Linked DNA regions of Homo sapiens: region 2 is linked to region 1. The links come from fine-mapping of genetic effects on gene expression. Tissue or cell type: ileum. Region 1 holds a variant in brackets; the other region holds the start of a gene. All regions are shown on one strand. Distances are between the middles of the regions.

Region 1 (2,760 bases):
TTTAGTAGAGACGGGGTTTTACCACTTTGGCCAGGCTGGTCTTGAACTCCTGACCTCAGGTGATCCACTCGCCTTGGCCTCCCAAAGTGCTGGCATTACAGATGTGAGCCACTACGCCCAGCTATAGTTTGCTTTTCTAACATTTTCACCTAAAGCAGATTCTAAAAACATTTTATTTTTATTTTTTGTTTCTTTTTATTTGATTTTTTTTTTTTTAAAACAGAGTCTCACTCTCACTCAAGCTGGAGTGCAGTGGCGCGATCTCAGCTCTTCGCAACTTCTGCCTCCTGGGTTCAAGCGATTCTTGTGCCTCAGCCTCCTGAGTAGCTGGGACTACAGGTGTGTGCCACCATGCCCAGCTGATTTTTTGTATTTTTTTTTTTTTAGTAGAGACAGGGTTTCACCATGTTGGCCAGGCTGGTCTCGAACTTCTAACCTCAGGTGATCCACCTGCCTCAGCCTTCCAAAGTGCTAGGATTACAGGCATGAGCCACCATGCCTGGCCTCTAAAAACATTTTAAATTTGAATGCATTCTGTTTTTTTTGAGACAGAGTCTCGTTCTGTTGCCCAGGCTGGAGTGCAGTGGCGCAATCTCGGCTCACTGCAACCTCTGCCTCCTGGGTTCATGCGATTCTCCTGCCTCAGCCTCCCGAGTAGCTGGGATTACAGGCGCACACCACCACGCCTGGCTAATTTTTTGTGTATTTTTAGTAGAGATGGGGTTTCACTATGTTGGCCAGACTGGTCTCGAACTCCTGACCTCGTGATCTGCCCGCCTCGGCCTCCTAAAGTGTTGAGATTACAGGCGTGAGCCACCGCGCCTGGCAAATGTATTCTTTTTTAATTGCACTAGTTATACATGAATACACATTTGTGAAAAATTCAAATAAAACACAAGTATAAAGAGAGTAAATTTCTTTCCATTCTCCTCCGTATTACTCTTTTTGGAGGTTATTACGAGACTGCTAATAGTTGTCATTTAGTATGCATCATTCTAGAATTTTTTCCAGAAACATAAAAAAATTTATATTTTA[C/T]GCTTCTGTTTTGTTGTTGTTGCTGTTGTTTGAGACAGGGTCTTACCCTGTCTCCCAGGCTGGAGTGCAGTGGTGTGATTGTAGCTCACTGCCTGCTGCCTTGAGCTCCTGGGCTCAAGAAATGATCCCACCTCAGCTGCCTGAGTAGCTAGTAGTACGGGTGTGCACCACCACACCCAGCTAAGTTTTTGTTTTTAGAGGTGGGATCTTGCTGTGTTGCCCAGGCTTGTATTGAACTTCTGGCCTCAAGCGATCCTCCTGCCTCAGCCTCCCAAAGTGCTGGGATTACATCATGCCTGGACCTAGGCTTCTATTTTTTATATAAATGTGGTCATTCTGTCTTGATGACTTTCTCATGTACGTAATAACTTAAAAATAGATATTGTATAATAGTCTGGATACAGCAGAATTTACATAATAATTCTCCTGTTTTGGACATTTAGATTGTTTCCAGTTGTAAATAGAACTCTGCTGAACTTGTTTCACGTATTTTTGTGCACCTGTGATGGGACTATATGAGATAGATTTTTGGAAGTGAAAATCAGGGTTGAAGATTGATATATATTAGATTTTGAAAAATAATGCTGTATCATCCTTCACAAAAACTGTCAGTTACATGTGCCCACCAACAGTGTGTGAAAATAACCATTTCCTATCAACAATGGATTATACCTGTCTTTTTATTTTTTGGCAGTTTTATTGGCAAATCATATTACATTTTAGTATACATGTCCCTGATTACCATGAGGTTGACTATCTCCAGTGATTTGAAATTATTTGATCTTATCTTTCAACCCTTTTGCTATTGCTGTCTTTTTCTTTTTTTACATTAATTGGTACTCTATGATGGAAAGTAGTCTTTTATTTAATTATGTGTTGACACTATTTTTCCCAGTCTTATGACTTATATTTAATTTTATTATATAGAATATTATAGGTTTTGTTTGTTTGTTTGTTTGTTTTCTGTTTTGAGAGTCTCACTCCGTCGCCCAGGCTGGAATGCAATGATGCAATCTTGGCTTACTGCAGCCTCCGCCTCCCGGGTTCAAGCAATTCTTCTGCCTCAGCTTCCCGTGCAGCTGGGATTACAGGTTCCCACCACCATGCCCAGCTAATTTTTTGTATTTTTAGTAGAGATGGGGTTTTGCCATGTTGGCCAGGCTGGTCTTGCACTCCTGACCTCAGGTGATTCACATGTCTCGGCCTCCCAAAGTGCTGGGATTACAGGTGTGAGCCACAATGCCCGGCCAGAATATTATGGCTTTAATGCAGCAAAATCTATCAGTCATTCTTGTATTGACTCTGAGTTTGTCTTGCTTATGTAGAAAAAATGTTTTTTACCCATTACTTCCTTATATTTTTGAGTATGGATTATGATTCTGTTAGTGTTATGTTACCAAGGAGTGATAATAAGGAGCACCAATTTTTTTTTTTCTAGAGAAATCAGTGGGGTAAGCTGGGCGCGGTAGTTCATACCTGTAATCCCAGCAGTTTGGGCAGCCGAGGTGGGCAGATTGCTTGAGTCCAGGAGTTCAAGACCAGCAAGGGCAACATGGTGAAATCCCGGCTCTACAAAAAAAAAAAAAAGAAAGAAAAAGAGAGAAAAATTAGCCAGGTGTGGTGGTGCATACCTGTAGTCCCAGCCACTTGGGAGACTGAGGTAGGAGGATTGCTTGAGCCTAGAAGGCAGAGGTTGCAGTAAGCTGAGATCTCACCACTGTACTT
Region 2 (2,618 bases), 59 kb before region 1:
ATGGCAGTGATGGTTGCATATTATGAATGTATTATCACTAAACTGCACACTTTAAAATGTTTAAGATGGTGAATGTTCTTATATTTTACAACTAAAAAAATAAAAAATAAAACTACACATAGTGAAGAAGTAGGAAATGAAGTTGCAACCAAACGGATCAATATTTTGAGTGGGAAATCTAATACTTAATTCAGTGCTAATTTTTATATTTTTAGTAGAGACAAGGTTTCACCATGTTGGCCAGGCTGGTCGTGAACTCCTGACCTCAAGTGATCTGCCCGCCTCGGCCTCCCAAAGTGCTGGGATTACAGGTGTGAGCCACCGTGCCCGGCCTCACGCCCTTCTCTTAATTCCATTTTCTCTCCCCTCTGCCCCTTAATACACTGCACTTAACCTTGTCATAAGCCAAGGAGGACCTGAAATAAGAATACTCAAAACACGGTTGAAATAAACAAGAAGACAGAAACTAAAGCCAGCATTTTTTTTTTAATGCTTGGTAACTGTCCCTTTGTGTCTCCCTAAGTGCAGGATAAACTTCTTGGGGCAAATACAAACGTTTGATAAAATTCTGGGCCAAGGAGTCCTGCACTGGATATATTCAACAAATTACCTGCCGATGATAACAGCGTAAGTCAAACGAGTTCTAAAAGTAACAAATGACTTAGTTATCTGGATAAATCCGTCCTTCCTTTTCTTTTTCACCTAGCCCTTTTGTCGGGCCTCTAAAATGTAAGATAACTACGTGGGAAAGCAAGCAGCGGCTGGTGGTGTGTTTTTACCCTGATTTTATCACTCCAAGTATCTACCGTGGCTGGTTTTGCGAAGACTAGCTTTGTATCAGAATGAGGTGTGGCTGGAACGCCTGAGGAAAGCAAACCAAGTTTTCCAGAGGACGCCGTTGACAGCGTCTCCGCACACCGCGCCGGGGTAGGAACTTCCTCCCACCTGGTTCGCCCGGCGGGGAACCAATAAAGTTGAGCGCGTTCAAAGGGGTCCTAATCTTCCAGGGTCCACTGGGCAGGCCTGCAAAATAAGGCCCCTAGAAACTCCCTGAGGTTTTCAAGTCTTCTCCCTCTCCTCGGAATTTTTTCCCCTTCATTCGCATTACTTTTATTCTGACGGAAACGGCGCGGGCTAGGCCCCAGGAGGGGCGCATTTCAGGTGCAACTGGCCCGGCGATCGCGGCGGGCAACCCCTACGAGGCCCCCGGTTGACTAGGAGCTGGCGGTCCGAGCTGTGGCTTGGAAGACCGACGCGATGAAGCCCAGACCTGCAGGGTTCGTGGATAATAAACTCAAGCAGCGAGTCATCCAGGTGTGTATTCTGCACCGCTTGGCCTCGCCAAGGGCCCCGATCGCTGCCCCAGGGTGCCACTCCCCTTTTGTCGGGTGGCATCCAGGTGGAACTCAACTAGTCTTCTTTCCCCAGTCTGGGTCTGGGCGTGCGTCTGTTTCTCCTTAGTTGGTGCTGCCGGGGCCTTCCCTACCCACGTTGGTGCGGAGTCTCAGGGAGAAGCCGGGGATGGTGGGAGGGTGCAGCTTGGTAGGGCTGCCCAAGTTGTCTGGTCGTCTTCAGCGCAGATCATTCAGTAGAGTGGAGGTAGCCTTTGAATTTTAACCTCTTTGGCTTGTGAAGTTAGCACAGGAATGGTCTTCAAACGCTCGCATTGTAAGAGGTCCTTGAGAAGGGGTGGCATAAATAATATGTTAATTTCCGTTCTCAAGGAACTTACACACTAAAACGAGATAACATGGGTCTGGCAACAGTAACAGGCACTTTGCCTACGGTTTTCTCATTTTCATGACCATCAGTAAAAAGCAGTGTGTGGCAAATACCTCAGAATGTAAGCAAGCAGTCTGAGTTAAAAGGTGGGAGAGAATTTTCTTCACTTAGGAATTTGTGAGCTACACATTCTCCTTGTTTTTCTTTCACTTCACCAGCCCCTAAACAATCTCCTTTTCGGACCCATCTTTTCCTACCAACTTGTAAATGTTGGAAGTGCTCTGTGCCACTGTTCTCTTACCTCCCCTTCCTCCTCTTTCCTCATACACCTTTCTTATCTATCCATACTTCCTATGTGATCTCATTTAGTGTAATAACCTTTGAGTAGTATCTACATACTCTATTATCTATGTATTTATTTCATTTTATTTTTATTTTTCTGAGACATAGTCTCGCTCTGTTGCCCAGGCTAGAGTGCAGTGGCTGTTTATGGGCACAATCATAACTCACTGCACCCTCGGCCTCCCTGACTCAAGTGATCCTCCCTCCTCAGCCTCCCCAGTAGCTGGGACTACAGGTGTGCACCACCACACCTGGCTAATTTATTATTATTATTATTATTTGTAGAGACGGGGTTCCACTATGTTACTCTGGCTGGTCTCTAACTCCTGGGCTCAAGCGATCGGGCCTCAGCCTCCCAAAGTGCTGGGATTACCGGTGCAAGCTGCTGCACTGGCCTCTGTATATTTATGACTGCTAACTTTATATCTCCAGTCCAGATTTTATCTTGAAGTACAGATTGATATATCCAGCTGCCTAGTCAGCATATCTCCAAATTAAAATGGCCAAGTGGAATTTGTGATTTTTTTCTTCCTTCAAATCTGCCCTTTCTTAGT

The links. PIP is the estimated chance that this variant, and not a neighbour inherited with it, causes the effect.
Region 2: NVL starts here. The variant in region 1 is fine-mapped to the expression of NVL in ileum (GTEx, PIP above 0.99). The same link has a PIP of 0.9 or more in naive CD8 T cells and whole blood.

The regions. Positions count from the first base shown.
Region 1 is chr1:224,269,799-224,272,558 of GRCh38, reverse strand. All of the region lies in intron 17 of NVL (nuclear VCP like), which reads left to right. Among named protein-coding and RNA genes, the nearest start is that of MIR320B2, 14 kb to the right of the region's middle. The variant C/T (reference allele first, on the strand shown) is at 1,036.
Region 2 is chr1:224,328,767-224,331,384 of GRCh38, reverse strand. NVL (nuclear VCP like) reads left to right here and starts at 1,213. Exons shown (of 23, transcript NM_002533.4): 1 at 1,213-1,314. The coding sequence starts at 1,258. RefSeq lists enhancers at 996-1,145, 1,166-1,215, 1,406-1,455, 1,506-1,645.